2 separate regions of the Homo sapiens genome follow, and region 1 is linked to region 2. The links come from fine-mapping of genetic effects on gene expression. Tissue or cell type: whole blood. Region 2 holds a variant in brackets; the other region holds the start of a gene. All regions are shown on one strand. Distances are from middle to middle.

Region 1 (10,904 bases), 36 kb after region 2:
TTATTTAGTTCTCACTGTGCCATACACTTTACCTACTGAAGTTTGTAAGGCATTTTTCCTCCTCAGTCTCATTTGGTTTTTATGCGGCAATCTTGCACCTGGTACCTACAAGGCACAGCTGTGACATCAGAGGGGCCCAAGTTCAAATTCTAGCTCTAGAACTTAATAGCTTTGGGACCTTGGACAAGTTACATAATACCTCTAAGCCTAAGTTTATTCATAAGCTGTTGCAAAAAAGAAATAAAGTACTACAAGTAAGCATTTAGCACAGGGTCTGACATAAACATTGGCTATGATTGCAACAGGGCCAGGGCTGAGGGGAGGTGAGTGAGGCAAAATTTAAGGTGCGACATTTAAGGCAAACTCAATGATCAAGATAAATAGTATTTTAATGCAATATTTAAAAAATCAGGCCGGGCATGGTGGCTCACGCCTGTAATCCCAGCACTTTGGGAGGCTGAGGTGGGCAGATCACGAGGTCAGGAGATCGAGACCATCCTCCCTAACACGGTGAAACCCCGTCTCTATTAAAAAAAAAAAATACAAAAAATTAGCTGGGCATGGTGGTGGGTGCCTGTAGTCCCAGCTACTCGGGAGGCTGAGGCAGGAGAATGGTGTGAACTCGGGAGGTGGAATTTGCAGTGAGCCAAGATCGCGCCACTGCGCTCCAGCCTGGGCACAGAGCGAGACTCCGTCTCAAAAAAAAAAAAAAAAAAAAAAAAAATCAAAATTGGGCTGGGTGCAGTGACTCACGCCTGTAATCCCAGCACTTTGGGAGGCCGAGGTGGATGGATCATGAGGTCAGGCTATTTTAGGATTTCTGGCCACAAACTCTTTGTAGAAAGACTTCTTTATTTCAGATTTCACTCTTGAAAGTGTTATGTTGAGGGCTCACTTGTATGCTATATAAATACACCCTGAGGCTGAACTTTCCCTGTTATGTACAACTGCAATTATCTAAGTTAAGACGTAAACATTATTAAAAGGATCTTCTCAATATTTTGTGCTTTCTCTGCTGGTTGTACTTTAGGCATAACTACTTCAAAAACATTATTGCGAGATGGATTAGCCACCAATGAATTCATAAGCAAAACATAATATTTGAGAGAATGAGCCTATACATGAAGAAAAATTACTAGCAAAAACAACAGAGCCAATTGTAGTTTATTCAAAACGTATGAAAAATCTATAATTTCTATAAATAAAAGAGGAAAAAAGGAATTTTCTTAATTCTATTTTACTATTAGCAACAAAGAAACCGATAAAGAACAGCCATAAAGAGTGACGTATTGTGTTAATTGGTTATTAACCCAAGTTTTTAGTTGGTTATTCACAGAATAACGTCCCAAGGTCTGAACCCCACCTTTGTTCAATGTAAGATTTCTCTTATTCGGTGAAACATTTTATTTTTGAGACATAATACCTTTGGGACCTTTTGAGTCTCACTCTGTCACCCAGGCTGAAGTACAGTGGCGCGATCTAGGCTCACTACACCCTCTGCCTCCCAGGTTTGAAAAATTCTCGTGTCTCAGTGTCCCGAGTAGCTGGGATTACAGGCACCTGCCACCATGCCCGGCTAGCTTTTGCATTTTTAGTAGAGACGGGTTTCGCCATGTTGGCCAGGCTGGTCTTGAACTCCTAGCCTCAAGCTATCTGCCCATCTAGGCCTCCCAAAGTGCTGGGATTACAGGTGTGAGGCACCGTAACTGGCCCGATGAAACATTTTTGAAAAGGAAAATGGATATGGCAATAATGAAAGGAATGGTAGAATTTAGATTGAGTTACTCAGTGCAAAACGATGCATTGTGCTCTCCTTGTCTGCAGCCCTACAACTGTATATAAATATGCAGAGACTATTTTCCCTTATCTTAAAAACATCCACTGGCCACTACAGATCTCTATGGATATTATTTCTCACCTTCTTTACACTGCCGAACTTCTCTAAAGAGTGACCTACACCTTTCTTGCATTTCTACAGCATCCAGTCTTTTCTTAACCCACAGCAATCTGATAACTAAAAAACACTCCTGAGGGTCACCAGTGACTTTCTATTCACTAAATTTTCTTGGCTTTCTGCAGGACTTGTCCCCTGGAAACTTTCTGCCCTTGAGCCTTCTCATCTGTGTCTTCTCTGACACTGTCCTCACTCTTACATCTCTGGGTCTTCCTCATTGCTCCCTGTGGGAACCTTCTTTCTCCTGCTAGTTCCTACATATGACTGTTCCTTGTGGTCAAATTCTTTGGCACTCTATTATTGAGAATGAACAACGTGTAACACTCCTCCCAATGGATCTCGACAAACCACGGTTGAGAATTGCTGAGGACAAAACAAAGTGCTAACTCTTTATCCATCTGAAACTCACCACAGCCTTGGCCCAACTGCTTTCCAGCCTTCTTATAAACACCACGTTGACCTACACAAGCCCTTGACCTCTACCTACCTAGAGGAGCCTACTTACTATCCTTATAGATGTCGTGTGTATCTCATCTTCATGACTAATGGCAGTGCAGAGACAAAAGTAGAACCAGAGCTCAGCCGTGGAATAAATCACTTAAACAATTTCAGCCGGGCTTGGTGGCTTATGCCTGTAATCCCAGCACTTTGGGAGGCTGAGGCAGGTGGATCACGAGGTTAAGAGATGGAGGCCATCCTGGCCAACATGACAAGACCCCATCTCTACTAAAAATACAAAAATTAGCTGGGCGTGGTGGTGCATGTTTGTAGTCCCAGCTCCTCGGGAGGCTGAGGCGGGAGAATTGCTTGAACCCGGGAGGCAGAGGTTGCAGTGAGCCGAGATCACGCCACTGCACTCCAGCCTGGCGACAGAGCAAGACTCCGTCTCAAACAAACAAACAAGCAAACAAACAAAGCAAAACAAAAAAATTCCCACAGTGGACTGGGTGCAGTGGTTCACACCTGTAATCCCAGCACCTGGGGATGCCGAGGCCGGCGGATCACCTGAGGTCAGGAGTTCGAGACCAGCCTGGCCAACATGGCAAAACCCCCTCTCTACTAAAAATAAAAAAGTTAGCTGGGCATGGTGGCGTACGTCTGTAGTCCCAGCTACTCGGGAAGCTGAGACAGGAGAATCACCTGAACCCAGGAGGCAGAGGTTGCAGTGAGCCAAGATCGAGAGCCTCTGCATTCTAGCCTGGGTGACAGAGTGAGACTCTGTCTCAAAAGAAAGAAGAAAAATGAATTTCCATGGTGTCTAGCATAATATACTGAACAAATTATTTGTATTTAAATAACTGCTTTGTAAATAGTATTACAGCCATCAAGTATATAGAATTGTTCTCTTTGATAATTTTTTTGGTAATCCTTGCAGCATAAAATAATTTGTGATAAATCATGGCTTTTTAATTGAAGTAATGCAAGAAAATCTCCATCTCCTGTAATGAGTTACAATCAAAGTGATTCTGGAAAAAATGGATATTTCGTTGCAATTTAGCCTACAAAAATAGGGAAAGAGTTGGAAAGAAACTAGTGTAGGCTTAATCATTGTGCATTAAATTTTGTCCCCTTGGGATTCAAAACAAATCACTTAAGAAAAAAGATAAATAAGAAGTGGGAAGTCATGGGCCTGATTCAAGACCACTTTGAAAGCCCGGTTCTTACTGAGAAATTCATGTTTTGAAATAATTATTAATACAATTATTTGTCTTATTTGCTAACTGTTATGATTTTTAAAAAGGAAATGAAAGTCAGCCTAAATAGAAGGTGCCTACATATGGCAAGAGCCCCTCACCTTCCAGGTCCTCTCCTTCCCTACCTTTGAGAGTGAGGGAGTCTTGCAGCAAATGAAAAATCAAAGTTCAGTTTTGATGGCCAGAAGTAAGAAGGCACTTCCTCTGTTTTATAGGTGTTCCATTCTGAGGAATATTAGGATCTACTATCACTCTCCTAGGAAGCCAGGAAGGGGTGCCTTGAGGCTCTGGCACCTCAAGTAGTAGAGGGAGTAGGGTCAGTATTGGGGTGGGCGGGGAAAGGGTAGAGTAATAAGAAGAGGAAGAAACAAGACAGAGGGGACGTTATGTGTCCATCTGAGATGCTCTCCATATGCACTGAAAGGCACCCCGATGGAGACAGGCAAGAAATATTTTGAACCTTTTTCTAGACTCTTGGTGATGGACTCTAGGTTTGAATGGGTACTTTCTGCTAACACATGCACACCTTTCCAGATGTTGTGGCCAGTTACAGCCAGAAGGTCACTGGGAAGCAGAGTGACAGTGTCATCACCATGACATAGGATCCAATTCAATATGTATTTACCTAGTACATACCATGCACCAGGCAGTGGGAATCTAACCGAGAAAGGAAAGAATAATCATTGAGCTTTTGCAGCACTAAAGAGATGCTGTTATACCAGATCTACACATCACAAGACTCAAGGCCATTACTCTCCTGGTCACAACGGCAGTGTTAACATGTGTCTGTGATTATTTGATGAATGCTCGTCAGGCTCTAAGCTCTGTGGGATCAGAAAGTGATGTGTCTCTTTTTCATCTTCACCATTGTGTCTCAGGGCTAAGCATAGTTTCTAGCACTTGGCAGCCATCCAATAGATACTGTTGGCTGAATGAATGTTACAGATGCGTTAGCGCTTTGTGGAAGTTATTAGCCCGTTTTACTGGTGAGGAAACAGTCGCAGAATACCCACAAATATTTCAAAGATCACACACAAATAACAGTCCTTAATACTAATAGCCCCTAAATAATAATGCTGCCGGAGAGAGAATTCCAAAACCGCTCAGCCGAATCCACAGTTCGGGCTCTTCTACCATGTCGGGCTCCTTCCCCTGGGTTGGAAGGGCTCAGGCTGGGGCGGGGTGGGGGAGACAGACAGGAGCCCCTGTGCTGGGTAAGTACCAGTATCTGCGAAGGAGGCACGAACCAGATGAGGCAAAGGTCGTGTCCCCCGCAACTCCGCTGAAATCCTGCCCACCGAGAGGAAGCACAATTATGAGTGAATGGGCTTGTGCGTCCTGATGAGAATCCAAAATCGAGAGGAAGGTGGAAAGAGCCAGGACGCGCTGGGAGGGGATGAAGCTGACGGGAGAAGAAAGGGCTGGGAAGAGGAGGGGTGTTCGGGGTTCTTCTTCTCGTCGTGTCTGCTGCGATGAGACACGATCCTGGGTCCCAACTGCAGGTGTCAAGGCGATTCAGTAAATGACACATGGCAGCCCCGGAGGGTTCGTTCACCTGCACAGGTGGGGCGTCACCGTGGCCTAATCAAATAACTTCTCCCCAATTTGAGGTGGGGCGGGGGAGAGAACTATTTTTGTGGGAAAGCGGTTTAGTAAATAAGGTATATTGGGGCTCTAGAGAGAATTGCAGTGCCACCACCATGGCTATGATCTCCGTCAGGCACCATTTCAACACCTCTCCAAATCAACCATCCCTACAACAGGATTTATTTTCCAATGAGCGAAATCCCCGCCCGCCAACTCCAAGGCGCTTGGATGCGAGCTCTGTGGGAAACAGCAGCGACGAGCAGAGGCTATTTTGGGTGTGGGAACGAGGAGGGAGGAGGGGCGGCGCCGCCAGGCTGGGCGCGGGTGCGCGGGGAAAGCCTCCAGCTCGGGCTGCCACGGCAACCGCGTCCAGGCAACGCGCCCGGAAGCGGCTCCGGCGGCGCGCGGCGGCTCGCGCCCCCCGGGAGCCGCGAACCCGGCCGGGCCGCGCGCCGGGCCAGGCGGCAGGCGCGCGCTGATTGGACGGCGCTCCCCGCGGCGCGGGCCCGCAGCCGGGCGCCCTGCTCAGCCAGCGCCAGCGGCCGCCGCACCCAGCCGCGCCGGCGAGGACATGGGCAGCCGCGGCGCGCCCACCCCCCGCGCCGGTGAGTGCCGCGCTCTGGGAACCCCGGCCGGGCGGCCTCTGGGGCTGGGCGGCGGGAGCTCTCTGGGACGGCCGGTGACCTTGGGGCAGCCTCTCAGGAGATAGGCGTGGGGTAGAGAGAGCTGCGCGTGGCCCATGTGACATGCCGCGGGCGAGAGGGTTAACTGCATGTGACGCGAAGGGCTGAAGTTGGGCACAGAGCGCAACTGGCGTTGCATTTTCGCGGGGGCTGCATGCTAGCGAACCAACCGACGCCCGGAGGGACTGTTTGGGGGAGCTGGGGTGGTGCACGGATTGCCAGGGGTAAAGGCGAGTCAGCCGACCCACTACTCAGAGTGAGTGACCTTGGGTAGGTTAACCATCTGCTCTTCCGCCCCTTCGCTTTTTCTCATCTTTCAAACGAGAGGCTAGGGGGTCTTTGCAGTTCCAGAATGCTGTTGTGCCATCCTACTGCGAGCTGAGAAAGAGCCCTAAAGTACGGTTCTGCAGGTACCGGAGATGCAAAGCTTAACCATGTTTATTCTAGGAGGGGTTTCCATTAATTGGCTCCTAAAGTGGTAAGAAATGTTATCGTTGTCTGGAAGATTATGGAGCAAGCAGTCGGTGGTCCGGAGAATGGCTTCTTAAGATGCACAGGTTAAAACCTCTTTGGTGCCCTAAAGACATGAACAAAATCAGGATTAATGCTCCTAAGTTCTTCTTTCCTGTAGTTAATCTAATAGGAAACTTTGTATTTGAACAGGTAAAATCAAAACCCAATCGTGGCAGGCAGCAGCAAATTAAGTGAGTCATTTCTTCAATGTGCACGAGGTTTATGTGTGTGTGTGCGCGCGTGTGTGTGTGTGCGTGTGTGCGCGTGCGCTCTCGTCCTCAGCTCAAAGTCTGCGTACGGCAGTGTTGGAAATTATTTCATAGGAGTAACCAGAAATAATGCTAGAATGATTCGAATCCACAAAAGTGCAGCTCTCTCAGAAGCAAGGGCAAACATTTGCAACTTGCTTTTAAAATAAGAGGTTTGTAGAGTAAATATATTCTTTATTGAGAACCATCCCCAGATTTGCACATTGTATCTGCCTTCTGGGCCCTGTCACTGAATGCGCGTGTGTGTATGTGTGTGTGTGTGTGTTGGGGGGGGCGGGTTCCTTGGCACTTATAATATTTTTAGCGTTGACTGGTACTAAAAAGGACACTTAGGCCCCCTTCCATATCCACTGTCTATAAACTTCCCTCTTCCACGGAGGGGAATGGAGGACGTACCCTCTCACAGGTACCCCTGGTTGCCCCTTCTGACTTTCTACTTAAAGCTACCCTTGATTTTCATTCGAATCTGATTTCATCTGTATAAGAACGTGGGTTGGGAAGACACAGTTTCCAATGCTAATGAATAAGCTTCTGCAAGCTTGTTTACCTGAGGGCTTAATAACCTTTAATGTGTTACATGTTAGAAATCTGATAGCATACGGATAGAAAAATACTTAGTGTCCAGGAATTCAACCATGAAGCCCTACCAACCATTTAATGAGCCACACTACATGGTGCTTGGAAACGTTATTAGCGCATTATTCAGCCTCCTCTCTCTGCAGGCCACTAGGCTGTGTCACTCCGACCTGGCTTTAAATGTCTTGTTTCTTGTATCCTGCAGCCACACTCTTGCATTTTCATTTTTTATGTAGCTGAACCCACCTTCTCTCCCGAGCACCAGAGCCTGAGTGAACAACTTGCCGCAGAAGAGCCTTCTCTAGTGTCCTCCACCGTCTCACCAGAGTAGGGATGCTCTTCCGCTTCTCCTTAGTGCTGCCTCCAAACCAATGCACCATCACCAACCAAGTCTCCTCTCGGAAGGTAGTGCTATCTGCTTGTGCCCCTACCCTCCTTCTTATCTTCTGGTCCAGTGCTTCCCAAACCTGGGGGCTCCTCAGAATCACCTGGGACATTTTGAAAAACTTGGTCTTTAGACTCTCTCAGATATACCAAATTAGAATCATTGGGGGCTGGGGCAGGGTGGGGGAGTAAGACCTAAAAATCCCTACTTTAAAAACAAACCCCAAAAGGAGGAGCAGCAGGAGACGATGAAGAGAAGGAACAGAACTCTCTGGGCAATTCTGATGTACACCCAGGTACAGTGGGGATCTCTTCACTTGATGCCCCAAAAAAGGGATAAACAAACAAAAAACGTGAGCAGCCAGCTTCATTCTCTTCTCTGCTTTGTCTCTTGCCAGTGACTTTGGGTTTTGTGTTGAAGCTCTCTTAATTCTTTGACCTTGAAGTTCCTCAACATCTATCCCAGTAGCCTCAGTTTCCACTTTGCTTCAACTAACATCTTGGACTTGTTCAGTCTTGAACAAGACTAAACCTTTGAGATCTTGAACTCGGACTTCAGCCTACTTAGCTGATACTACCCACATACTGCTCTGGATTTTAACCATCGCTGAGGACCCTGGTCCCTTAAGCACTTGCTGTTCCAATCCTTCAGCCCCTCTGTGACTCTGTTTCTCCACTTGGGGCATGTAAGTTGCTGGCCATTTCCATTCTGTCTGGGATCCCAGAATCCTTTGTTTCAATGTGTTGGGCTTCTTATATTTCAGTCCTCAATCCAAAATCACCCCCGCTTGCCTGCTTATTCTTCTCCCAGCCTGCCACATTATCTAGGAGGAAGTCACAAAGACCTTTGGACAGGTTCCATTGAAAATTTACGTTGGCTCTAATTTCACCAGATAAATTCCCACTTTACCTTCCTCAAGGCCCCCAAGCATCTTTCTCTTCCTCTCTTTGTCCTTCTTTATTTCGTCTTTCTCAAAGGAAGAAAATGTCTACAAGTCCCTTCCCCAAGGTTAATCCACATGCAATCCACACTCTTCATTCTCTGGACTTGATTCCTTCCTTCTCACCTCTTTTGGGAACTGGCTGCATTTGTTATTCCTCTTCTCCAGTGTCTTTGGTCCTTCCCTACTCTGCCCCAACCCTTACTCCACCATATGGGTCATCCTTCCCATAAGAAACTCTGGTGGGGTCCTCGCTCTGTCCAGTAGAATTTTCTGCGGTGAGAAAAATATTTTATATCTGCACTGTTCCGTATGGTAGTCACTGCCCACATGTGGCTCTTAAGCACACGAAGTGTGGCTAGTATGACTGAGGAACCAAGTTTTCCATTTTAGTAAATTCTAAACTAACTTAAATCCAATTGAAGTAGTCACATAGGGCCAATGGCTATCGTATGGGGTAGCACTGTTTTTGACCCTGCTACTCTGTTGAACTGTCCTCAGGTTCTCTTCTTTGTCCACTCACCTATTCTGGTTTCACCCTCATCTTTCTGTTGAAACTGCTTCCTCAGAGGGCTCTGGCATAGGTGTCCTGGCTGCAGATCTGAGGCCTTTGCCCTGGCTTTCCCTTCCTTGGTCCCTGCCCTGCGTCTCCTGGCAGCAGTCAGCCCTTTGCGCCTCTGTATCTCCCTGTCTCCATGACACTGGTTGTCCAGGCCCACTCGAACCTCATTTGTTTCCTTTTTCTTCCTGGCATGTAGACACGGGGATGCTGTGAGATCCTGTCCTTGGTCTTTCCTTTCCTTTTCCTCCTCCCTTCCCCCTGCCCCAGCCTCACCTCTGAGCCCGCAGTAGTATTTAAAGAGCACTGGGCACTTTCCCCGCGCCTCACTGGGCGCCCTCGCCCACTTGTACTACTTCCTCTAATCCTCACTCCAACTCTGTGAGGCAGAGACTCTGATTACTCCCGTTATGTAGGTGCAGAAATTGAAATGGAGGGAGATTTGAATAACTTAAAGAAAACACTGCTTTCAAGGAGCAGACCTGGGAAAGGGACTCCACCAGTCTGACCTTAGAGCCCCACTTTTAACCCTGTTTACCCAGGGCCCCCAGGTACTTCAAATCTATATTTTGGGCCCTGAGCTGTTGCCCACATTTCACTCAGAATGTAATACTCAGAAGCCTGACTGCTTTGTCTCTACCTTGTCTTCCTGGCTTCTGTAATCATTTTTCCCCTTTTTAAACCTTTTACTTTGAATAATTCAAATTTATAGAAAAGTTGCAATAACTGGCCAGGTACAGTGGCTCATGCTTGTAATCCCAGCACTTTGGGAGGCCAAGGCGGGTGTATCACCTGAGGTCAGGAGTTCCAGACCAGCCTGGCTAACATATAGTGAAACCCCATCTCTACTAAAAAAATACAAAAATTAGCTGGGCATGGTGGTGAGCGCCTGTAATCCCAGCTACTCAGGAGGCTGAGGCAGGAGAATTGCTTGAACCCAGAAGGTGGAGGTTGCAGTGAGCTGAGATCGCGCCACTGCACTCCAGCCTGGGCGACAGAGCGAGACTCCGTCTCTCAAAAAAAAAAAAAAAAAAAAAAGAAAAGAAAAGAAAAAGAAAAGTCGCAATAATTAAAATAATTCCCAACATACCTTTCAACCAAATTCTCTAAATATTAATTTTTACCACACTTGTTTTACCTTTCTCGCTCTATCCTATTCTCTCATTCTCTCTCTGTGTGTCTGTGTATCTGTGTGTTTATTCACACACATATGTATGAACACACATATGTATACACACACACAAGTGCATATGTTGTCATTTTCCCTGAACCATTTTAGAGTGAGTTGTAGACATGATACACCTTTGTCCACCTAAATACTCGTGTATATTTCCTTTTAAAAAGGACATTTTCTTGTATAAGTGCCAAAATCAGAAAATTAGCATTAAGAGCTATTATCTAATCAACAGGCCTTATTCATGTATCATCTATTGACCTAATAATGTCCTTCATGGCAAAAGAGGAGAAAAAAAGATCTTTATTGTTTTATTTTGTTTTTGAAATGGAGTCTTGCTCGGTTGCCCAGGGCGGAACGCAATGGCACAATCTCGGCTCACTGCAGCCTCCGCCTCCCTGGTTCAAGCAATTCTCCTGCCTCAGCCTCCCGAGTAGCTGGGATTACAGGCACCCACCATCATGCCTGGCTAACTTTTGTAATTTTGTAGAGACAGTGTTTCACCACGTTGGCCAGGCTGGTCTTGAACTCCTGACCTCAGGTGATCTGCCTGCCTTGGCCTCCCAAAAT
Region 2 (9,357 bases):
TTGTCCAGGTTATGTGCTTCTATCTCTTGGCCATTATTATTTTGGCTCATACTTGAAGACTATCAATTACAGATGAGTCAATTAAGGCAGAAACGCTTGGTATAAAAATATAAAACACCATCATAAACAATATTTGACCTTGGAAAGGTTCTGGGGAAAAAAGTGAATTAATCAGCACAGATTCATTGGCAGAGTCTGTTCAAGGGTGTATCACCAACCTCAATAATGGTGCTAGGTGTGAGCCAATCCACCGGATACACTCACTCCTCTGATCCTACTGAAATTCATCTTGACCATTTGCTTCTTCAGCTAATGATAGAGACACAAATGGACTATTGGGATTTTCCAGATTGCTTTCAACATTCCAAATGCCAAACCATCCGAGTTTTTAAAATTACTTATGGTTTTCCAAATCCTACAACACAGGATGTGTTGACTAGGAGATACAATTTTTAAGATGTTTGTTGTACGTGCTTTTTTTTTGTCTTCCTGTTTTCTGCGGGTTTATTGGTGGTATCAACTGACTATTCCATCCAAGAGACAGAACTTGCACTGGAGGAGAAATGGGCACAATCCTAACCATAGCATCACCTAGCGACTATCAAGCCCGAGACCAGAAAGCAACATTTGAAGTGGTTTGACAGCATTGCCTTTGGATAACTGGCTTTCTGGTTCCTTACTGAACACTTGCAGATATGAGTTATGTTAGGTGAGGACATCTTTGGAGCCATCTGCATAAGAAGAAGAGTGTCAACTCTGGCAGGACAGACTTTTTTTCACTCAGGTAAGTAATTGGTAATGTAGGGTCTAAGTGTTTTCATAGGAATAAACACATGGGAGGAACACTGTGTAAATTTGGATTAGGTTTTTCTGCATGTAACCAAAATAACAGTGCCTTCCACAGGATGGGAGTTGACTTCCCTTTTACACAAATGAAAGCAAGAGGTAGACAGTGCAAAATACCTAATAGCTCCATAAAGTCATTAGAACATGAATCCAGGCCAGGTGTGGCAGCTCATGCCTGTAATCTCAGCACTTTGGGAGGCCAAGGCAGGTGGATCACTTGAGGCTACAAGTTCGAGACTAGCCTGACCAACATGGTGAAACCCAGTCTCTATCAAAAAAAGAAAATTATTGGGGATTGGTGGCACATGCCTGTAGTCCCAGCTATTCAGGAGGCTGAGGCAAGAGAATTGCTTGAACCTGGGAGGTGGAGGTTGCAGTGAGCCAGGATCACGTCACTGCACTCCAGCCTGGGCAACAGAGTGAGACTCTGTCTCAGAAAAAAAAAAAAAAAAAAAAAAAAAAAAAGGAAATGAATCCAGTCTCTTTCTAGTGCAAAACTTCACCATCCCTAGGGTGTGGTCTATGTCTTCCTAGTCCAAGCTAGTGACTAAAAAATCAGCTATCGGCCAGGTATGATGGCTCACGCCTGTAATCCCAGCACTTTGGGAGGCCAAGACAGGTGGATCACGAGGTCAGGAGATCGAGACCATCCTGGCTAACATGGTGAAACCCCGTCTCTACTAAAAATACAAAAAGTTATCCAGATGTGGTGGCGTGTGCCTGTAATCCCAGCTACTCGGTAGGCTGAGGCAGAAGAATCACTTGAACCTGGGAGGCGGAGGTTATGGTAAGACGAGATCACACCACTGCACTCCAGCTTGGGTGACAGAGTGAGACTCCATCTCAAAACAAAAACAAAAACAAAAAAGAAGAACAAAAAGAATCAGCCATCATATTCATATAGAGGAAGGGGAAGAAAGGCATGTCTTCTCCCTATAAAATCATATCCCAGAAGCTGGAAACATTTCCACTTTCACATTACTAGCCAGAGCTTAGCCAAATGGTCTCATCCAGCTGCAAAAGATATTGGACAATGTAGACTTTATACCAAGCACTTTATGCTCAGCCCAATATTAGGGGTTCTTGTACCAAGAAAAAAAGACAAGAGAATGGATGTGTAGACGATTAGCAGTCTCTGCCACAAACATTGAACCCAGCTGTAAGACATCAAAAAAGGCCTCCAGAAAGATATGGTATCTGAGCACTGAATAAAATACGCTGAAGAACCCATGCAGATGAAAGGGATGTACGAGAGGAGGAAGGGCAGGGTGTTTCTGGTGAGGGGGCAGCACATGTGAGGCCACAAGAATGAAGAAGTGTGCTGTGATGGGGGAACTGAAAGTTGCTCCTCTGGCTGATTGAAGATAGGAGGCAGGAGAATTCTCTCCCTATGCGAGGCGCTGGCCAGTCCTCATTCTCAGGTAATGTTCCCAGAGTTCTGGCTCTCCTCCTTTCCTCCTGCTGCAGCTGATTCTCTAAGTTTAGTGTGAGTGGCCAGCCACTCCCTCCAGGGCAGGAGGGGAAAGAGTGGATAGTATGCCATAGCCTTGTTAAGAAAGCCCCATACTTATTTTTCAGAACACATTTGAGTTTCTCCTTCTTCAACTAGACCAAAAAACAAAGTATCTTCAGTGAGTAACTTTCAGAGAGGCTCCAGGGAGGGTGGTGGGGTAAATGGAGAGTCCCCGTCCGAGTCTCTCTTCTGCTCCTCCACACCTAGGAGCTAACTTCCTGCCATTTTTATCGTAACTGTTACAGGTGAGGGATTTGTGAACTGGGAAACAGGCCAGAGGTTCACTCAGAGATTGCAAAGGCACCTCCAAGTCAGGTTGTCCAAGACTGACTCATGCTCTTGCCCCCCAATTCATTCCTCTTCAGTGTTCCTGTCTGGGGGAATGCGTCTGCACACGTCCCAATACCAGAGCGAGAAAGTCAGGAGTCAGCCCAAGCATGGACTCTCCCTCCCCGCCCACATCCAGCCACTCACGGGTCTGATAAATTTACCTCCTCAATAGCTTGCACTTCTGCTTACTCCTCTCCACGTCCACTGCACCCCGCACACTAGCCCAAGCTACTATCATCCTCTCCCGATCATAGCAGTGGTTGCAAGTCTGGTTGCCCCGCACCGGCTCAGACCCCCCTACCCCATGAATCACACTACAGCCAGTGTCATTATCTTCAGCATAAGGCTGATGATGATCCTCCTTCTCCACCTCTTGAAACCCTAGGGTGGCTAACTGCAGTCTACACAGCTCTAATCACTCAGGTTCACACCCCTCCTGCTTCATCAGGCGTCATTCCTTCCCCTGCTCCCTTCACTCCAGCCTCCTTGGCTGACTTTTGCCAATGCTCTGCCCTCCTTTCGGCCTTAGGTCTGTTCCAAGCTGCAATGCTCTTTTCTTCTCCCAGTGAATCCCAGTCTCTTTCTGTTGTCAGTGCCGGTTGCTTTCATGGGGGAAGTCTAAACTCCCAGTCTACTAAAAATCCTTGCACATTCCCTACTTTTCTTTCTCTTAATACACATGTTGGTTTATAATTTTACATTCACTGGTTGATTAGTGTTTCTATTGATGCATTTTTAGTAGGGTGATTCTTCCAGCTAAAGGGCTACAAAGGTTTCAAATTAATTCTGGAAACATTTTCTCTTTGCATATTTAAAGGGAAAGTGATCTTTTCTAACCTTTGCAGATAAGAGGAATGTTTGAAGTTAGAGTCCTAAAGCATTATTATTTTTATAATGATTTTGTATTTTTTTTCCATTTTAATGTTTGCAATTTAATAAATCTCTTGATGATTGCAGACATGTATGGCTGTTTGGTAGTATTCAGAAACATCACAGTAATGGCAGTTTTTTCAATTGGTGCGTAGTCCTCAATAATTATATATGAAATTGCTGTCGAACCAGTAAGACTGCATTTATGCATCCATCATTTTCAGGATTGTTGGTAACCTGGGCATATTTTCCCCAAATAACTGCCGCCTTGCATCACAAGGCCCAATTTGCTCACATTTACCTCCATGGCAGTACCTTTGGTAATAACACCCAAAGTTGTATACAGTGGGGACGACGGGTTCTTCTTTACACCAAATATTGGTAGGCAAAAGGTGACTTTCAGTTCAGGATATGTTACATGGGCTTTCTTGAAACGCAAGCCCATTGGCCTGATGAATCTTTCATACTTAGGTGGTATTCTTGTAAAGCCATCTTGAACAAAGCAGACATTAGTAACCACCCTCTTCCATGCCTTCTTCTTTCTCTTCCTTGTTCGAATAACTTTTAATACTTCTGTTTCTCCCTGGGCACATACTTTAGGCAGAGGGACTTCCCATTTTCCCGCCTTCTCTTTTCGTTTCTGTTTGATCATACTGGAAAGTACTTTAGCTCGAGATTGTCCCTCTCTGTCCAGCAGATAGGCAGGTACTGCTCCCTGTGGAGTCTTTTCAGCATTTTTTTTTTTTTTTGGTGTTTCTCTTTTCATGCATCTTGATAGTCTTTTTTATTTGTATTTTCTCAGCATGGCCCTGTTTATGGTAAGGCTTAGCCTTGAGACCAATCATTTTCTTTGCCTTCTTTGAACATTCATGAGCCTCTCGACTTTCTTTCTTTCTCTTTTTCTCATGGTAATCCAAACAGTATCCATGGTGTTTACAGTGTAATTCAATATATTTGTTCTGTGGCATGTTGACGCCGCAGAGCTGCCAGGAGCAGCCCCTGGGGTGCGAAAAACGCTCTCAATTTTCGGGTCTTAGAGACCCATGAGCTGACGCCGTGCAGGCCTGACAGGAGAGTGATTTTATATTAACTTTGCTATTGCTTTATACTGCTATAAAGTAATAAACTCAAATTTCTATCCCACGTGTTACTGATCAGCCGTGGATAATGTTAGGAGGATGCCCTAGTTTTGGGGGTGGCTATCTTAATATTCCTTAATATCCCTTAACTGTTTTGCAGATCCAGAACATTTCTGCCTTCAACTCCAGCAAGGATCTGAAGGTCCAGGACCTTAGGAAAGCTGCCTGCAGAGAGGTGGAGAGGTAACAGCATGTGGGACGGGGAGAGTCTGCTTGTATTCTTCTGCCTCCCACACCCCAACGTTTAGGAACAAGCCTCATGCCCATTATACTCACAACGAGTTACAGACTAGTGGCTCACAGGCCAACTTAGTCCCTTACATGTGTTTGGCTTGGCTAGAAGGATATTTTAAATTATTATTATTTAATTTTATTTTTATTTCGAGACAGCGTCTCACTCTGTCTTCCAGGTTGGAGGGCAGTGGCTTGATTTTGGCTCACTGCAACCTCTGCTTCCCGGGTTCAAGCGTTTCTCCTGCCTCAGCCTCCCAAGTAGCTGGGATTACAAGCATGTCCCAACAAGCCTGGATATTTTTTTGGGGGGTGGGGGGGATATTTAGTAGAGATGGGGTTTCACCATGTTAGCCAGGCTGGTCTCGAACTCCTGGCCTCAAGTGATCCACCTGCCTTGGCCTCCCAAAGTGCTGGGATTACAGCTGTGAGCCACCACGCCCGGCCTCTATTCCTTTTACAATATGCTTTAATAGCATTTCTAAATCATCTTCATAGGGGTCTTATATATATATTCTTTGTTAGGTAAAATTTGAGATATTATGATTGTTGTTACTACAGTGAACTGAGTCCTACCTGTTATTGCATTTTCTAGTGGGTTATTGCCGATGTAGAGGAACGCTACTGATTTATATAGGTT[C/CTAGTTCATT]TAGTTCATTTAGTTCATGGGTCTATAATTTCTCTGCCTGAGCCACTGTCTTTACCTCATGCTCCATCAGAGGTCTCTGATAGTTTCAGGGTGTCCAGAGAAATCCATTCATTTACCCATATCTTTACTGAATATTTATTGAGAACTTCGGTTATGAAGTGGGCTACCCCCCCATCCCACACCCCCACATTCATATGTTGAAGCCCTAACCCCCAATATGACTGTATTTGGAGATCCGGCATTTAAAGAGGAAATTAAGGTTAAATGAGACCATAAGATTGGAGTCCTAATTAGATAGAACTTGTGTTCTTAAAAGAAGAGAGAGACATCCGAGCTCCCCCAACTCCTAAGCATAGACAGAGAAAAGGCCACACAAGGACACAGTGAGAAGGTGGCTGTCTGCAAGCAGGGGAGAGGGGTCTCGTCAGAACCCAATCCCACTGGCACCTTGGTCTTGGACTTCCAGCCTCGAACTGGGAGAATATACATTTATGTTGCTTAAGACACCCTGACACTGTTATGGCAGCCGAAGCAGATGAGTACAGCCTCTCTATGCCCTAGTTCCTCTGGTTATTTTATGGAAGTGTTATCTCTGGCTAGAAAGCCTTACCTAGGGTCTTCTTTCAATTTAGGCAGTGGAGATCTGGTTAGAGTTGAAGAGATGTTTTAAAAAAACAAAGAGAATTAGCATTCATGGCACACAGGGAGGTAATTGATTTCTTTTCAGTTAAAATACTTTAAATTGCAAATTTCTTCCAAATCTTAATAAACATTTTTTTTCAGTGTTTTCAAGACTCAATATCAGAGAATTGATGGGGACCAAATTGTTTCTTTTCTTTTCTTTTTTTTTTTTTTGAGACAGAGTCTCACTCTGTCACCCAGGCTGGAGTGCAGTAGAGTGATCTCGGCTCACTGCAACCTCTGCCTCCTGGGTTCAAGCGATTCTCCTGCCTTAGCCTCTGAGTAGCTGGGACTACAGGCGTGCGCCACCATAGCTGGCTAGTTTTTGTATTTTTAGTAGAGACGGGGTTTCACCATGTTGGCCAGGATGGTCTCGATCTCTTGACCTCATGATTCGCCCGCCTCGGCCTCCCAAAAGTGCTGGGATTACAGGCCTGAACCACCATGCCCGGCCTGAATTGTTTCTAAAGGTAAACCTCTACAAACAAACCCATTGATTCTCAGGGCAAAAAAGGAGAGGGAGACACACCTATACACGAGGCCTAAGTGGGAAAGAGAAGATCCATCAGGAAGAGAAAATGGGAGGAGAGACCCATCTCCTCATTCCAGCAAGTCAGAGTCCATAGCCCATATTTCTTCCCACCTTAGACAAGGCCATGAGACTTTCTCAGGTAGAAAGGCTGTTCACTTTGGTGTGGAATCCTGTAGCAGTTTGGTGAGAAAGTTTCTATACATTCTTTGTTTTTTTTTAGAGACACAGTCTCGCTCTGTTGCCCAGGCTGGAGAGCAGTGGAGCGACCATAGCTCACTGTAGCCTCCAACTCCTGGGCTCAAGCCGTCCTCCTACCTCAGCCTCCTGATTGAGACGACACATATGCACCACTACACCCACCTCATTTTTGTAGTTTTTGTAGAGATGGAGTCTCACTATGTTGCTCAGGCTGGCCTCCAGCCCCTGGCCTCAAGTGGTCCTCCCACCTTGGCCTCCCAAAGTGCTGGAATTGTAGGCATTAGCCACCATGCCCAGCTCATATTCTTCACAACAGCTGGAATAACCTCAAGATCAGATCACTTGCTATACTGTTCAAAACTCTTCCAATGGCTTTTCAACACATCTGAAATGAAATCCATGTGTTTCTCATGGCCAGTAAAGCTAGTAGGTCTGGGCCCTAACCATCACCCTGAAATAATCTCCTACCACCCTGCTTCCATCTCACTCTGTCCCAGCTACACTGGCTTCTTTGTGCTCTTTGAACACACAGAGCTGACACCAAACCCAGGGCCTTTGCATGCTCTCTTCTGTCTGCCAAGAGTGCTCTTTCTTCCAAGCTTTGTTTCTTTTGCTCCCTCAAAGCCCTGCTAACATGTAACTTCCTCAGAGAGGTCTTCCCTGACCACTCAGTCTAAGCCATCTCGCCTCCTGCACATCCTTTCCTTGTTAGCAGTTAGGTTATAGAGTCATTTGATTATTTCTTTATGATCTGTCTTCCACTACAATATAAGGTCTGTGAGAGCAGGAATTTGGTAATGTATGTGGGATGAATGAATGAACAGGCCTGCCAAGAACAGAGTGGGAGGGGTTTGGGAGGGTACAAAGAATACAACCGTATGCCTCTTTCCGCTAAGAATTAGACCGGGCTCTGTGGCTCACACCTGGAATCCCAGCACTTTAGGAGGCTGAGGCGGGTGGATCTCTTAAGGTCAGGAGTTCGAGACCAGCCAGGACAACATGGCAAAACCCCGTCTGTACTAAAAAGATGAAAATTAGCTGAGCATGGTGGTGCATGCCTGTAATCCCAGCTACTTGGGAGGCTGATGGGGGAGGATCGCTTGAACCCTGGAGGCAGGGGCTGCAGTGAGCCGAGATCACGCCACTGCACACCAGCCTGGGCGACAGAGTGAGACTTCATCTCAAAAAAAAAGAATAATGATAATAATTGCTACTACTTCATCCTGTCCATCCCATGTCCCTAAAAACTTCAGCATAAGTGCACTCCACACACAAGGAGAGAACAAACCCTCTTACTGGCCTTGGGCCCATCCCTCTTTCTCCCACACTGCTACTTTTGAGTTATCTCATTTTGCTCCCAATAGTCAGCCTTGACTTTTCTGGGCTTACCTGGGCATCAGGGACCCATGTTGCACATTCAGTTGTCCCGATTATGTCTGCCTTAGAGCGTCTCCTAGGGCAGCCAGTCTGGAACAGTCAGTCACCTAGGGTCCTGGAGCTCCTGCAGTCTGCCACTCGCTCCTTCTGCCTGATAACAAATACTATTCCTTTTATCCTTGCAACTCGACCCAGAAAGAGGTGGCTGTCAATGTCCAAGGCCCCTGGAAACGAAGACTGGAAATGTGAAACCACTGGGCACAGGGGAATGGGTGGGTCTGAGAGTCTGAAAGACAGTGCTAGAGCATGTGCCTTCCAGATCATTCTCATTGAAAAATTCAGAATGACCTCCCCTCCCCAAGCCAAGAAAGGATAAACACTGACACCTGCCTACCTTCTCACATTCTAATTTCTAAGGTAAAATAAAATGCATTAAGAATCTGTAAGTTATCTCATTTAACTGGCACTCTGCTTTATGAGATACGCACTATCATCACCCACTTACAGATGAGGAGATTGAGGCTGGGGGATGTGAAATCATTTATTTCAGTTCACATGGTTTGCGAGCAGTGGAGTCAGGATCCTAAAGTAGATACTAACCAGTGCTATTTGGCATACCAATTTAAATCAGTTACCTACACTAACTTTAAAACAACATCAGCTTTATTAAGGCAAATTTATATATCATAAAGTTCACCCACTTTAAGTGTACAATTTGATAATTTTAGTAAGTTTGCAGAGTTGTGCAACCATCACCACAATCCAGTTTTAGAACATTTCCACTACCCCAAAATGTTTCCTCATGTCCATTTTCGGTTCATACCCACTCCTACCCCCAGCTCTAGGCAACCGCTGATCTACTTTCTGTCTCTATAAATTTGCTGTTTATAGAGAAATGAAATCATCCTGCACGATCTTTTACTACAAGCTGCATTTGTTTTGTGAAGACTGTTCAGCTCAGTTCTCAACATTCAGTTCAGAGGTGTGCACTGGCTTAGCA

What was found. PIP is the estimated chance that this variant, and not a neighbour inherited with it, causes the effect.
Region 1: FAM81A starts here. The variant in region 2 is fine-mapped to the expression of FAM81A in whole blood (INTERVAL, PIP 0.96).

What each region holds. Positions count from the first base shown.
Region 1 is chr15:59,432,443-59,443,346 of GRCh38, forward strand. It overlaps FAM81A (family with sequence similarity 81 member A), which reads left to right and starts at 5,744. Exons shown (of 9, transcript NM_152450.3): 1 at 5,744-5,840. RefSeq lists a silencer at 5,442-5,971.
Region 2 is chr15:59,397,478-59,406,834 of GRCh38, forward strand. It overlaps a transcript of FAM81A not described here and the pseudogene NSA2P4. Among named protein-coding and RNA genes, the nearest start is that of MYO1E, 29 kb to the left of the region's middle. RefSeq lists enhancers at 1,849-1,958, 2,099-2,438, 2,809-2,888 and a silencer at 4,373-4,667. The variant C/CTAGTTCATT (reference allele first, on the strand shown) is at 5,570.